2 separate regions of the Homo sapiens genome follow, and region 2 is linked to region 1. Evidence: fine-mapped expression QTL. Tissue or cell type: whole blood. Region 1 holds a variant in brackets; the other region holds the start of a gene. All regions are shown on one strand. Distances are between the middles of the regions.

Region 1 (8,106 bases):
CACTTTTCCTCCTGGCCAGTCTTAAGAGCTGGACTCTTCATGTTGTTGGTGTGATACTTTCCAAAGAGCACATAGTTGAAACAAATTAAAGAAGACCTAAGTAAATATAAAGATATCCTGTGTTCACAATTGCAAAACTTCATATTATTAAGGTAACAACACTCATCAAGTTGATCTACAGATTCAGTGTAATCCCTATCAAAATTGTAACCACCTTTTTAGCAAAAATGGACAAGCTGATCCTAAAATTCATATGGAAAAGCAAGGGACCCATAATAGCCAAAACAAATTTGCAAAAGTAAAACAAAGTTGGAGAATTCACACTACCCAGTTCAAAACTTAGTACAAAGCTATATAGTAATCAACATAGTGTGTACTTGAGTAAGATTAGCCATATAGAGAAGTGGAATAAAATTGAAAAATCAAGAAATAAAACCAGGCCAGGTGTGGTAGCTCATGGATGTAATCCCAGCACTTTGAGAGACCAAGGCAGGAGGATGGCTTGAGCCCAGGAGTTCAAGACCAGCCTGAGCAACATAGCAAGTCCTTGTCTCTACAAAAAGTAAAAATAAAAAAATTAGCCAAATGTAATGGCACATGCCTGTGGTCCTAGCTACTCAGCAGGCTGAAGTGGGAGGATTGCTTGAGCCCAGAAGGTTGAAGCTGCAGTGAGTCGTGATTATGCAACTGCACTCTAACCTGGGTGACAGAGCAAGACCTTGTCTCAAAAAAATAAGAAAAAAATATATATGATTAAAAAGAAGAAATAAGGCCGGGTGCAGTGGCTCATGCCTGTAATTCCAGAACTTTGGGAGGCTGAGTCAGGTGGATCACTTGAGCTCAGGAGTTTCAAAACAGCCTGGGCAACATGACAAAACCCTGTCTCTACAAAATATACAAAAGTTAGCTGGGCATGATGGCGCATGCCTGTGGTCCCAGCTACTTGGGGGGCTGAGGAGGGAGGATCACTTGAGCCTGGGAGGTTGCAGTGAGCTGAGATCATGCCATTGCACTCCAGCCTGGGTGACAGAGCAAGATCCTATCTCAAAAAAGAAGATGAAATAAGCTCGTACGTATATGGTCAGTTGATTTTTGACAAGGGAACCAAAACCATTCAATAGGGAAAGAGCAGTCATTTCAACAAATGGTACTGGGAAAACTAGATATGCAAAATAATGAATTTAGACTAACTCACACCATATGTAAAAATTAACTCAAAATAAAGCAAAGACCTAAATATAAGAGCTAATGCTATAGAACTCCAGAAGAAAACATAGGCATAAATATTTGTGACTTTGGATTAAGCAGTGTCTTCTTAGATATGACATCAAAAGCATAAGCAATGAAACAAATGTAAATAAATTGGACTTCAAAATTTAAAACTGTGCTGAAAATGATACCATCAAGACAGTGAAAAGATAACTCCTAGTATCTAGAAAAATAAAGAACTTTAAAAAGTCAACAATAAAAAGACAAACAACTTAAAAATGGGCAGCCAGGCATGGTGACTTGTCCCTGTAATCCCAGCTGCTTGGGAAGCAGAGGCAGGAGCCTGCACTGAGCTATGATCACGCCACTGTACTCCAGCCTGGGCAACAGAGCAAAACCCAGTCCCTTAAATTATTAAAAAACAAACAAACAAACAAAAATACGGGCAGAGGATCTGAACAGACATTTCTCTAAAGATTAAAATTGCTAATAAAGGCCGAGGCGGGTGGATCATGAGGTCAGGAGATCGAGACCATCCTGGCTAACAAGGTGAAACCCCGTCTCTACTAAAAATACAAAAAATTAGCCGGGCGCGGTGGCGGGCGCCTGTAGTCCCAGCTACTCGGGAGGCTGAGGCAGGAGAATGGCGTGAACCCGGGAAGCGGAGCTTGCAGTGAGCCGAGATTGCGCCACTGCAGTCCGCAGTCCGGCCTGGGCGACAGAGCGAGACTCCGTCTCAAAAAAAAAAAAAAAAAATGGCTAATAAGCACATGAAAAGATGCCAACGTCAGTAGTCATTAAGGAAATGCAATTCAAAGCCACATATTTCATACTCGTTAAAGCGGTTAGAATAAAAAAGACAGACAATAACAAGTATCGGCAAGGATGTGGAGAAAACGAAACCCTCATATGTTGCTAATGGAAATGAAAATGTTGCAACCTCTTTGGGAAACAATTTAGCAGTTTCTCAAAAGTTAAATATAGTGCTACCATATGAGTCAGCAATTCTACTCCTAGAGGAGTACCCAAAAGAATTGAGAAAGTGTTTACCCAAAAACTTGTATGCTCATGTTCATAGCAGAATTATTCATAATTGCCAAAATGTGAGAGCAATGCAAATACACATCAACTGAGGAGTAGATAAACAAAATGGGGCATATCCATGCCATGGAATATCATTCAACCATCAAAAGGAATAAATTAATAGCACATGTATATGAACCTTGAAAATATTTTGCTACATGAAAAAGACAGCCACAAAAGCCCCATATTATATGATTCCCTTGATATGAAATGTCCAGAAGAGGCAAATCCACAGAGGCAGGAAGTAGATTAGTGGTTGCTAGGTCTGTAGGGATGGTGGGATGGGAATGACTGCTCACAGGTACAGGGTTTCTTTTTGGGGTAATGAAATGTTCTGTGATTAGATAGTGGTGATAGTTGCATAGCTTTGTGAATATACTAAAAGCCCCTGAATTATACACATTTCAAGGATGCTTTTTACCACATATGAATTACATCTTAAATTTCAAAAATCAATGATTTAAAAAAATGGGACACAGTGGCCAGGGAAACAAGTTACAAGTGTCACTGTTTCACTCACATTTTCTTCCTTTCTCAGATATTTGGGATATGCCTGGCCCAGAATTTGGTTAGCGATATCGAAGCTGTCAGGGCGAGCTGGTAGACCCCCTGCAACCGCTGCTGCAAGACACTGGACAGACCCAGCTTTCGGGACCCTCCCGCGTGCCGAACTGATCTTCGAGCTGCATGGACCTAATCACAGATGCAGCCTGCAGTCTCGCCTAATGGAGCTGCCATTAGGGGAGTGTAAAACTGGGAAATGCTGCTCACTGACAGAATTAAAAAAAAAAATAACCAGTATGAAAGTCGTTGCGCCGTGAATCTCTACTGTAGCCATGAATTTATGGACAGTTAGATGCTTACCAAAAAAGAAAAAAAGGGAGGGTAGGGGACCCAGATGTACTTGAATGTGCAGAAAATACATTCTTGTCCTCATCTTCCGTAATTGGAGGGCTGGGAGAGGCAGCTTTGCTCTTCACCACACCTTGGACGGACCACCTTCTTTCTGTTCCATGGCCTGAAGGAGTGCATCTCCTCAAAGACTCAGCCCCTCACCTGGGAGGGCAGTGGTTTGTGGGCATCCCTCCATGTACATTTTAGGAAACACTTGCAACTCTCATCTGAAGAAGAAAACAACT[C/T]ATCTTTGGGTTCAGATTTTGTGATGGTATTCAGCAAGTCACTTGGGCGAGCACACTTGGTCTATCCTGGAAAGTCTCCTTATAAGAGAAGTTGTGTATTTCATGTGCACCGAGCAAGGGCATTGGAAGACGTCATGAGGCTGTATTTTAGCAGGACTGATCGTTTTTCTAAGTAGACCTGAGCTTTGTTTATCAGTGAAATTCAAGGAGAAAATGAGGTTAATGAAGAGGTATCAGTTAAATATCCCCTTCTTCTCACCCTGCCAAAATTAGCAGTTGGATTTTTGGAAACTCTGGAATATTCTGGGTCATTTTGTTTTGTATGTTTGTTGTTTTTCGTCTTCCAAAGGTGAAAGCTATGATACAGTTCCACTTAAATTTTAGTGTTTTCTTACTCAGCTCAAGCATTAATTTTTGATTAAGTCTTAATCTGCATGACCTGTGAATCTGAATCCATCATCTCCCTTTCCTGCCAGCTTTTCTACAAACATTGAAATATGTTATTTGGTCAGCACTTATTTCCTAGGTTCACAGCCTTGGGAGGTTGTGGCATGTCCTCCCAGTCTGGCTGGGAAGAGACCAGCTGTACCATCCAAATGCTTCCCTGGTCTTGATGATCTCTTCCAGAGTCGATCTGAGTGGCCTTTTCTGCACCCTCCCCTTCTTTCTCTTTGAATGGAATTAAACCCAATTTGGAAACAACATTGACCCAGTCAAAAGCTTCTAATGGTTTCTTTTTCTTCCTCCAGTTTTAGTTTGCTTTTATTAAAAAAAGAAAATAGTGCATGGCCATAGCTCCTTCAGTTCTCTTATTGCAGACTAACCATCAGGATGGTATCAAAGCACAAATACTTTGGAGGGGAATGCGTTGAACTGGGGCAAGTACTCTGTAACACAAAGTGGGAAACCACTTCCTGGTGCTGCCGCTCCTGCCCCCACTTTAGGTGGGAGGGACGAGTTTTGCCCTCTAGATTTTAATCCAGCTGGTGTCCACCGGATGTTGCCCTCCTGGGGAGCAGATATCAGTCTGTGGAACTCTGGGAAAACCACAGGCACATTTTTCGGTGCGGACAGATTTGCCAGCACATAACTGGGCAGCCAGCTAGAATACTTTGTGGAAATTAAGCGAGGTTTTCCATTTCAGCCCCATGGTGCATGGTGGTGGCCGATGAATGTGTCAGTCTGCTCAGAGAAAGGACAAAAAGGAAATTATTTTCAAAACTGTGTTCACTGTTTGGGTGTGTGTATGGCTCTGCATGTGTGTGTTTTTGTCTCTGTATAGGTAGAGGTATTCACATCTTACTCCGACTGTAAGGTTGTCTTACTTCATCTCTGCCCCCACCACAGTTGCCATTTTGTAATGTCCTTCCAACATGGAGAAGACACGAGCTCTCTCCAGTTGGCATCATTTGTCTTTTTTGTTGATTGCCTCATTCTCCAGTGAACTCCATCTGGCCAATTGATTCAGAATCAGGCAAGATCCCTGCCCTTTGGCACATCCACTGAAAGGCCAAACAGCAAGTCCGAGTGAGTTTTAAATATTAATTAATCACCCTTTATTTTTTACACTTGAGAGTGATTGTAATAAAGGCTGTCATTAATAAACTTGGTTCTACCTTACATGGTGTGTCTTTCTTCATTACTTCTTTCTTGAAATTGTGAAATTTTCGAATCCAGTGGTTCTCAAACTTTAGCAGGTGTCAGAATCACTGGGAGGACTTGTTAAAACACATGAATGCATTTGCTCCGTGCCCATAATTTCTAACTTAGTAGGTCTGGGGTGGGGCTGGAGAATTTGTATTCTGATAAGATCGTAGGTGATGCTGTTTGCGGCTTGTTTGGGGACTACACTTTGAGAAGCATTGTTCTGATCCAGTTTTCTAGGAGGGGAAACAGAAAGGTAAGATTTTGTAGTTGGGAAGGGAAAGGTTCCTTTGTACTTAAAAATGCTGACTGACAAGACACAGAGGCCAGAGCCTCGTATGTAGGAAATCCCTGCCCATGAGGTCATCTGCTGGTTACAATCACTTGGGGACCATGTGAAATACAGATTCCCCAGACCTTACCCCTAGCAGTTCTGGAGTGGGAGACAGGGTAATCTATGTTTTAAAAGCTCCCTTGAAAATTTAATGCCTGGTGGGATTTATGACTTATGGGCTTAGATAAATGTTGATAATATTCACAACCTTTTATATAAGAAAATAATTTCTCACAGTCCCTTGGAGCTGGAATCTTAAAAACCCATTAGAGAAACGTCAGCTTAAATGTCTTTCATTGTGAATTATCACTGCAGAAGAAGACTTCCGTCGTTAGAACTGATTAAATACTTTTTTCAAAGATCAAATGAAAACAAATTTTAAGGTTCATATAGCACACTTAGATCCTGACAACATAGTGTCAGACTTGTTCAAGAAACGTTTTGCCTCATATCTCAGATATTTGAAACAACGTTATTTTGATTTTAAGGAAATTTATCAGTGATGATTGGAGATGGCCAATCCCTGCTTCTTGAGTTTTCTTATTGTCTACATTGGCCCTCTTTGCTTGTTGCAAACTATAAGCCAACAAAGGAAAAAAAAATGACAGCTCAGAAGTAAAAGGATGCTTTGTCTATAAAACTCAAAAACTTGGAGGAAGTTTCTTCAATGTGTAGAAGGTAGACTTTAGGGGAAGCTTATTAAATTTCTCTTTATTTCTGTTGTTGGGCTGGTTACCACTAACATCATTGCTCCTATAATTTAAAAATATACAGTTTTTAAATGTGAACTCAGGAATTTAAAAATATTTTGCATCATGAAGTACTTAAAGAAGTGCATTTCCTTTGTTCTTCCTCTTCCTTCTCCCAGGGAGTAATAAACCTGGACTTTTCTTTCAGCCTTCTTCCTGCCACAGGTCCCAGTTGTCCTTTCCTCAAGGGGATCCTCAAAGTGTCTCTTGGAGGTTTCTTGTGCAAAGTGATCATTCATTTCCCCGTGTTTGTGTGGGCAGGAATGGAGTGATTTTGCAGTTTCGTCTGTTTCCGGCTGGCTTGGACAGGCGCCCTGGGAAGCCTGTGGGCTGAACAATGAGGAGCTGGAGCCCAGTGACCTGGCAGGCCACCCCAACTCCCTTTGTCATTTATTCCACGAAGCCCTCCTTCTCTAGGGAAATCCTGTTTAGACCTCCAATGAAGAACTGGGAAGCCCTCTATAAACGCTGGCCAGCAGGGTTTCATGGCCAGAGCTCTCTCCAGTGAGGCCATGGGGCTGCTTCTAGGTGCTGCCCAATTCCAGAGTGAGAAGCCTAGTCTTTGAGGAGGAAAATGCAGCATTTGCCTGAAAAATACATTAACATTGGCTTTATCATGATGACACAATAAAATCCATAGAAAATCTACACATGATAACAGACAAGGCAGTCAGATGGGGGTGGGGGGGTGGGTGGGGGCAGGGAGCACGGCGGAGAAGCCAAACTCTGAACTTGGAGCAAAGCCATCCTTACACTCACCCGAGCCTTTTTGTTTGGAGGGGTTTGCCACAAAGAGTTTATAAAATTACAGTTTTAGGCCAGACAAGGTGGCTGGCTCACACCTGTAATCCCAGCACTTTGGGAGGCCAAAACAGGATGATTGCTTGAGGACAGGAATTCAAGATTAGCCTGGGCAACATAGCAAGACCCCGTGTCTTAAAAAAATGAAAAAAAAAATTTTTTTTAATTAGCTGGACCTGGCGTCATGCACCTGTACTCCCAGCGACTCTGGAGGCTGGGGCAGGAGGACAGCTTGAGCCCAGGAGTGAAGTATGATCGCACCACTGCACTCCATCCTGGTTGGCAGAGGAAGACCCTGTCTCTAACTTAATAAAATTACAGTTTTTAGGACTTCTTGAGGGATTAAGTACAGCTTGCTTTGGCGTTTTCATGCTGAGTGGTTCTCTTGTAAACTTGCCGCTGGTGAGAGGAGGCTGATTTAGTCCCTTCCTGTTATCCATTAGCCGGGGCTAAACCTCTGGGGACCCGCACTGGCCATTGTGATTTATTTTTCCACTTCTAGGAATTCCCAAGTAAAGTAAATCTAAGGGAAGAGCAGGCGAGTTCACGGGCTTTCACTGTAAATATGCCCCGAAAGGAAAGCAGTAGCAGGCTTCCCACGCTCTTGCCCCATACCGAACGCACGCTTGCATTCTCCGTGGGGGAAAGCTACTTTTCAGATACGGAGCGGACCTTCAGGTGCTGTGTCAGCTCTTGCATTTGCAGAGCAACTCGTTTGAACGGGAACGTTTTAATGGCCTGCCCTCTAGTGTCGACTGCGTAAAACCACTCCGGACTGGAGTTGGAATAGTTCAGGGATAAAAACACTGTATGTTCAGAGGCGCTTGTGCTTTGGAGAAACTTGAAGGTACACAGCTTATGTTGCCTGCTTAGGGCGGGTAGGTGTTTTATTTCCTTTACACGCTCCTGAAAATGGCAAGGCTTGTTTTGGAAAGATGAGAGAACAGGACGTTTTGCTCCCATCACCATCTATCCTGCTTGGGATCTTGCTGCTGGGAGTTTATCGCGGCAGGATGGAGCTGGGCCTTGTCCTCCCACCAGTTTTCAAATGTGGTTTCTAGACGACGATGGTGACTGCCTAAAGCTGCTCATCTTCCAGGCAGAGGCACTGTCCTAAAGGTGTCCTCAATGGGGCTGGGAGGACAAT
Region 2 (8,106 bases), 190 kb before region 1:
AACAAGTTCTTACAGGCAGCCTTTAAGTGCCGGGATGGAAGAACACAGCGGGTGTTGAGGGAATAAAGAAGGAGCCTCCGAGACATTGAACAAAAGTAGTGAAGAATAAGAGAAATCAGCTCACAGACAAGAGACAAGGAGAATGCCCCAGGCAGAAACTCTAAATGACATGTGCAGAGGCACAGAATGTGAAGGAACATTGTGGTCCAAGTAACTACAAGGAATTGGATATCACCCCTACTCTTTGATCTTTAATTTCTGGCCAAGTCTTCAATATAAATAATGCTATGATATACATCTTGCAGTGTATAACTTTTTCCATCTGCTGGGGTATTTCTTTGGGTAGATTCCCAGAAGAGGGACTGCTGAGTCAAAATGTAGGAGCACTCTGACCTGATATATACAGCCAAAATGCTTTCCAAATGGACATATTATTTCATAAGGACACCAACAATGTATGTGCTAACCAGTGCTCATTATTTTTGTATCTTTATTAGTTTTAATGTATACTTCATTTATTACTAGATTAATTTCCCCATATATTTTATTTCTTATATGATTTATTTTCTGTTTATACTCAACCACTGCGATTCTATATTTTACTATAGCTCTATGAGCCCTACTTATAATATAGACATTCAGGTTTTTATTTTTCATGTTTGCTGCCAATTTTTTTTCTGGTTTAGCTTACACTAAAAAAAGCTGGACACGTAGAAGTGTTTAAGATATTACCCAATCATATCCATTGATTATTTCCTTCTATTGCCTCTAAGTTGAGAAATACTTCTATACAGAGGTTTGACAAATATTTTTCCTTCTGGTCTGCTTTAAAATATATTTAACTCCTTAATCCTCATAGAACTTATTTTGGATATACGAAATGAGATAATTCAATTAGTTTTTCCACCCCCCCCTCCAAATTACTGATTAGTTATCTTACCTTTCCCTTCTCCATTGATTTTTCTTTTTAAGACTTTATTTTCTTAGCAGTTTTAGTTTCACAGCAAAATTGAAAGAAAGACTGCATACTGTATGATTCCTTATATATGGCATTCCGGAAAAGGCAAAACTAAGGAGACAGGGATACAGTCAAACTTCAGTGGCTGCCAGAGACTGGGGGGAGGAAGGGATAAATAGGTGGTGTACAGAGGACTTTTAGGGCAGTGAAAATACTCTGTATGATACTATGATACTATGAGGGTGGGTTCATGTTATTCTATATTTGTCCAACCCTATAGAATATACAGCCCCAAGAGTGAACCCTAATGTAAACTATGGACTTTGGGTGATAATGATCTGGCAATGTAGGTTCACTATTTGTAGCAAATGTGCTACTTTGGTTGGGGATGTTGACAATGGGGGAGGGTGTGGGGTCGGGTATATGGGATATCCACTGATTTTTATTTCAAAGATAAATCCACTTAGAGATCAACTCAGTCATCAATTGCATCTAATTTCTGGTCCTTTTGAAATGTGTCACATCAGCTTAGGACAGACCTTTCTTCTGACTCATCCAGTATTCCTGCAGCGACTGTTCTATTTATATACAGAATTACAACATAGCTCCAATAGGCTTAGGTAAAGCTTGTCAGTACCTTCCTGTTAACAAGGAAATCTGCTGCTGAAAGACCTTACTTTTGAAGTCTACCAGATTGGTGGTAGTATGGCCTGTGTTTTGAGTGGGTAGAGAGCACTTTTGAGGGAGTGAGGATTATTTCATCCAAAGGGCTGAAGCTACTGTTATCCCGTGTCATAGCTTCTGAGGTACTGAATGAGTAGGATCTCCTGGCCCTCCCATCTCTGTGGGTACCTCGTTCATACTTGCGACCTCAATATAGCCTCAATCCTGCTGAAGCCCAGTACTATCTCTAAATGTGGTTTATTGCAGGAAAAAGTAGCTTCTTGACTAGCCAAAACTTGACTGCCGGTTGTCAACTAGCCAGTTTTTGAGAAAAGTGAGAGGTTGTTACGTAGGAAACCTTATAACTAGAGGCTCTCAAACTCAAGTATTTAAGTATCATCTTTTAGATTTCTGTGTCCAGGATCGGGTTGCACTGGGTGGTGCTGGAAAAATTTTTTGATCTCACCTCCTTCTAGCCTTTTGAATCCTTAAAAATATTCCCATAGACATTTATACACAGTCCTGGGCGGTTCTTCCTTCTCCTTCCGTGAAATACTGGTACCTGCTTTGCCAACACCTATGAAAGTGCTCCAGGAGGAGGGCGGATAAGCAACTAATGAGCACACCTGCTCAGGTAGGGTTCTAAAACAATTTCCAGCCACCTGTTCTATTCTTCCCCAGAGTTCAAAAGCTTAATGGTTCGTGATCCAAAAACCCAATTCAGATTCCCCAGAAGACCTCCCTGGAATCCGTTGTGGATTCCTTCCTAGAGTTAGGAGGCAAGCAGGTTTCTTAGGCACTATTCTGTCGGGGTAGGGGGGAGCGTGCGCTGTCCGGGTTTGTGTGGTTGCAATAGACCCTAGGGCGAGGATCGCATCCCGGGCCAGGACTCCCTTGAGCCATCTCTTTTTCCTCGTCCCCATTTCTAGGATAAAACCCATTTCTCCGGTAGGTGGGGAGGTTGGGTTAGAGTCACACAGGGATTCAGGAAGCTTTCCTTTTCAACGTCCCATCCCTTCATCCTTTCCTCCCACTTCCCGTGGCTCTTTTCTCCACCTTCCCCAACTACCCCCTTTTCCATTCAGCGAAGTCCACGACGACTTTCCTTCCCTGTCCAGTGGCATCGCATCTTCTCTAGCCACATAAGCCTGTTGTGGAGGAGGGGGCGCCAGTGTGGCTACCCTGGAAGGGGTGTCGGGGGTGGCTCGCAGGTCCTCACTCACCCAGCCCTCTCCCCGAGGAGCGACCCTCTCGCCCGCGTCCCTCCAGAGCTGCGCCGCTCATCAATCCCGGTCACTCTGCCAGCCTGCTCCCCGGGCGCCCTTCCTTCTCCCTCTCGCCTGCGGTCCTCCACCCTCCCACCCCCTACCTACCCCGCAGCGACGTTCGGGGTCAGCGGCGCTTGGGGTTGGCCCGAGAAGGGGCGGGGATAAAGCGAGCGGTGGAAGGAGGCGGCTACGTGGTGCCACCGCCGCCCGGGAGCGCCCGACCCCGTGCGCGCGCGCGCCTAGCCAAGGCTTGGGCGGCGGGCGGAGCTGCGGGCGGCGCGGGCGGAGGAGCAGCCGGCCGGGCGGGCGGAGCGAGAGGCGGGCGGAGCGAGGGGTGGGAGGGCGCGCGCGAACGGGCGGGCGAGCAAGCGAGCGGCGTCTCCACCAGCATCTGCCGCGGCCGCCTTTGCCCGAAGCCCGGGGACGAACCGACGGACCGACCGCCTGGCGCACGGACGCGGGCGCTCGCTTTGTGTTCGGGGCTAGCGTCGGCGAGGCTTGAGCTTGCAGCGCGCGGCTTCCCTGCTTTCTCGCGGCCACCCCGGCTCCGGCGGCCTCGGCGCGCGAGGGGCTGGAGGTGCGGGAGCCGCTCTCCGCCGGTCGGTCCCCGCGCGGCTGAGCCCAGGCCGCCAGCGCCGCGGCCCCGTGCGGTGTCCCTGAGCTCCTGCTCCCCGCCGGGCTGCTCCGAGCAACGGTGCTTCGGAGCTCCAAACTCGGGCTGCCGGGGCAAGTGTCTTCATGAACCCAGAGGATGTCCGGGAAGCACTACAAGGGTCCTGAAGTCAGTTGTTGCATCAAATACTTCATATTTGGCTTCAATGTCATATTTTGGGTAAGTTGGAGCGCTCCTGGGATTCCAACTATTGTGGCCGATCGATTCGCGACGATTTCCCCCACGTTGTTCGTTGCCTTTACTTTTCGCAGCCCCGCAGGCGCTTGCCGGAGCAGCATAGAGGCATTCGCCTTCCGCCTTTCCAGCTTGCGCGTTGGAGAGATAAACATTTAATCCTTTCGAGGAATGGGAAGAGGTGAAAAGAGAAATCGAGGCGGAAAGGGGGCACCGAGGCCTTCTGGTGGCTTTTTGAGGAACGAATAGCAGGGATGCAGATAAAAGAAAGGGTTCGGCAGTTTGAGAAATGAGCAACCACACGAATTGGATTTGCTCTCGGTGGGATATAGATGTTGGGCAGAGCGTGGTGTCATAATAGGGAAGGCTAATCGGGCACGGCCGACCCTGAGGTCCACCTTCTAACAACGATCTGATTGGACGAGGGCTTGGCTCCGTGTTGCCGCGGCTGGTCTGTGCCATGCTCAGCGTGTATCTTCTTGCACCATCTCGGGCTTTGTGTAGGATGCAGATGCCGTGGTATATGGTCCTGTAATTGCACGTAAATAACGTTTCCTGCACGCTCTCCTCTTCAGCTGGAAAGCGCTCCCTGTGCGTAATGGACTGGTCAGTGGGGGTGCGGGGTAGAGGGATTTATTTGTATGTATATATCATCGTCAGGATAATAAGTCACCGTCAACATATATTTCAGTGTGTTCCTGCCCCACGTCCTCATTTTTAAAGGAGTGACACAGAGCGGGCCGTTTGGGGGAACCTTTGTAGAAATGCAAAGGAGAAGGTGTGCGAGGCATGTTTTATTGGGGAACCGAGAGAGCAAATGCTTTAACACAAGATTCAAATGATGCTCTGCTTGGGACTGCAATGTGTTGGGAACCTATTGTAATTAGGCTGGGACGCCTACTCTTTTTGTTTGTTTGTTTGTTTTGATTCTTTTCCTTGATCTGGCAAACGTGTTCAGCAGCCAGACAAAGAGTTCTCCAGGACAAGGGGAAAACGTTGGTTCAAAGACCATGTTATTTTTCTTCCCCTTCTCATCCCATCTCATCCTCTTCCTCAGTGGGCACCCGCATTTCCATAGAAAGTAAAGATGGTGGCTGTCTGGGTAGGGGGTTCTCTAAGTTGCTGTTCAGTGTGAGGTAAACAATGCTCCAACTGCAGGATCAATAATTATCCACAGCAGTCTGAACACGGAATGTATTTATTTGAATTCTCCTTTAATTTGGGCTGTTTGCTGTACGTATATACATCTGTGAGAATAGTTGTCAATACGGCTCTTCATATTCTTTTTTTGTACCGCACTCTTACCAGGTTATTTTATTTTCTGTTTTCTATTATAATACCTTGCATTGGTCATGTATGTTTTGTGAGGGGAAATGCAAGGGATTGGAGACCACTTTCCGTGTCAGCATGTCATCTGTCTTCAGGACTAATAAAGATAATGAGGGGACACATGAATGGATGTCATATCCGATCATTCCACAGGCAGTTTTTTGCCAGTGTTGTGCATGATTCCCGGGAGCAGTCACCCACCTCCCTGCAATTAAACACTGCTACAAGTACAGGAAGAAGGAATTATTTTCTTTCTTTGCCCCTTCTCCATTTGTGAAAATGTTTAAAAGTGGTGGGTAGCCACGGTTTTGAGTAAGATATTCTGATTTGATTGGAACTTGAAACTTTGTGACTTGGAGAGGCACGGACTACCGAACTGGGACTGGTTCTTTTTGGGGTAGTGAGTTCAGGCCTCTTGTTTCTACTTGAACATTTCTAAAAGTTGCACATTTTAGCTACCCAGCAACAAAAAGCACCCAGGGACTTTCTCTGCCGTTTCCTAGCAGGGGGTGGTAAGGAAATAAAAGGATTTGGGTCTGTTTCCCTGACAGTTTGCTGTAATTCTGTGGAGTGCATAGAGACAAATTTAGCCCTTTCTATGGATTAGGTTGCAGCAAAACCCCTGGAATTGTAGAGAGCTTCAAAGAATTGCAGAGTGCTTGCTTGGAGAGGTCCAGAACAGAGCCGCATGTTTTCTGATTGTGAAGGTCTTCATAGGTGGGTGGGTGAGTATGGGAAGCCTGAAAGGAGACCTAGGCTATGGGACTAAACTAGCTGCCCCAGGCAGAATTGTTAAGTGAGTGCCTTCCTTATGAGGGCCCTTCACTTACCCTGCCTCTTGCCTTCCCTTCCTCTCCTCTCTGTGCCCAAAGCCTTCCTCTCAGATACTCCCTCATACCTTTCCTATCCTGCTCTCTGCCTCAAAATTACCCCATATTTAAATTTCCTGCTTTATTGTACCATGGTCTCTAGTGATGATCAACAGAAAGGCAACCATATGGTTTTGGTTAAAGTAATTCAGACTAAGATGTTAGTGACTGAAAAGCTGGGGTCAGTAGCTTGGCAGCTTGCTTCTGAAAAGTTACACACCTCTGCTCTCTACAGAGTCACCAACCTGTCTGTGATTGCCAAAAACAGCAGACTCGGTGCTACTCCCATACAATTATGAAGAAGAGATTGCCAACAGCATGGTTTCCTAATTTTCATTTTCACACTGAACTGCTAGACTACATTTGACATACACTGGTGACATTCAAAGGTATAGTTCTGGTAAAATAAAATTGAACATATGGTGGCACCAGCACTGAGAGCTTGGTTCTTTTCCTGATCAGCAGTTTGGCTCTTCATCAGTTAACTGCCTGGGCCTCAGTTTCTCAGCTGTTAAATTGAAGGAGGTGGATGAGTTATAACGTTCTTTCTAGTTCTTACACAGAATGAGTTTCTTGAGTTCCAATATGCTGGAGAAGAAAAATAGAAGAGTTTGGCCACTAATTTATAACAGAAGTAGTATATACCAGGACACGTGATAAATTATAGACATTTTCTGTTAGGGAGACTTGTCTGAAGACTAGTTTTATTACTTTCATTTCTTCCTCAAAGATCCTTTCATAAAAAACAAACAAACAAAAAACAAAAAACAAAAACAAAAAAAAACCAAGGCTGGGCGCGGTGGCTCACGCCTGCGATCCCAGCACTTTGGGAGGCTGAGGTGGACGGATCACAAGTTCAGGAAATCAAGACCATCCTGGCCAACATGGTGAAACTCTGTCCCTACTGAAATACAAAAAACTAGCCAGGTGTGTTGGCGGGTGCCTGTAGTCCCAGCTACTCGGGAGGCTGAGGCAGGGGAATCACTTGAACCCGGGAGGTGGAGATTGCAGTGAGGCAAGATCACACCACTGTACTCCAGCCTGGCAACAGAGCAAGACTCCGTCTCAAAAAAAACAAAACAAAGCAAAACAAAAAACCTTTCACTAATTTCTTCTTGGCTTGTTCAGTTCCTGGTATAGTGTCCGTGCTTCTCTCTCCCCACTGTGAATCTCAAATGTAGTCCTGTGAGTCATTAAATATATTTTTATTATTAGAATTACAGCTTCATGTATAAAATCTGAATCCTTTTATATAACAGTTGTAATGACATTCTGAGTAACAAAGTCAACATCTTGTACAGATTCCTTTCTCATTAGTTATCACAGGCTGGTGGGGGAAAACTTGTTTCCTCTGTTATATATTGGAACAATTCAAGACAGAAGGGAATTGATTTTATTGAGGGTGTCACCGTACTGGGACATTTCTCAGAAAACCCTGAGACTGCTTTGGGTTTGGGGGAGGGAGAAGAAAGAGGATTTTGTTTTAAAGTCATTTCTTTGGGGTACCGAACACCACATCCCATCACTCATCATTAATAGATGTTTTGCCCTTTTGGATTCTGGCTTTTAACTGTTTTGGATTCTGGATACTTAACTGTTCCCAGGCAAGTAAATTGATCTCAATATTCTGGTTATTTATTGCTACATAACCTCCAAGCTTAGTTGTTTAAAACACAGTTGTTTATTATTATAGTTCACAGTTCTGTGATTTGGCCAGGCTCATCTGGACAGTTCTCACTTGGGGTCTCATACAGTTGTGGTGAGATGTAGTTGGAGTTGGACTTACCGGAAGGCCCTCTGGGCAGGATGCCTGAGATGGTATACTCATATGACTGGAAGCTGATGCTTGCTGGGAGCTTAGCCAGAGTTGTCACTGGAGCACCTACCTACACGTGGCTTCTTCCTGTCTCTAAGTCTTAAAGAAGCTTCCAGCCAGTTAAGGTTCCACTTAGAACTGGCAGTGCCACTTTTATCTATTCCATTGGTTAGAGCACTCATGCAGACTGCTGAATTTCAAAGGGTGAAGAATTAGAAGCCACCTTTTGATGGAGAAGTGTCAAGGTCACATTGCAGAAAGTCATGTAGGTTGTGGCCATCTTTGAAAAATATAGTCTACTGTATTAAGGCACTGAGCCTTAATTTCTTGTTTATAAAGGAAAGATAACATTAATG

Evidence for each region. PIP is the estimated chance that this variant, and not a neighbour inherited with it, causes the effect.
Region 2: it holds the start of TSPAN5, and the variant in region 1 is fine-mapped to the expression of TSPAN5 in whole blood (TOPMed, PIP 0.90).

Annotation. Positions count from the first base shown.
Region 1 is chr4:98,467,312-98,475,417 of GRCh38, reverse strand. It overlaps TSPAN5 (tetraspanin 5), which reads left to right. Exons shown (of 8, transcript NM_005723.4): 8 at 2,831-5,051. The coding sequence ends at 2,896. Among named protein-coding and RNA genes, the nearest start is that of TSPAN5, 190 kb to the left of the region's middle. The variant C/T (reference allele first, on the strand shown) is at 3,432.
Region 2 is chr4:98,653,761-98,661,866 of GRCh38, reverse strand. TSPAN5 (tetraspanin 5) reads left to right here and starts at 3,256. Exons shown (of 8, transcript NM_005723.4): 1 at 3,256-3,721. The coding sequence starts at 3,641. TSPAN5-DT (TSPAN5 divergent transcript) reads right to left here and starts at 2,965. Exons shown (of 3, transcript NR_148380.1): 1 at 2,845-2,965; 2 at 941-1,069. LOC112267901 (a long non-coding RNA gene) reads right to left here and starts at 3,144. Exons shown (of 3, transcript XR_939016.3): 1 at 2,995-3,144. RefSeq lists silencers at 3,099-3,278, 3,532-3,691 and an enhancer at 7,399-8,106.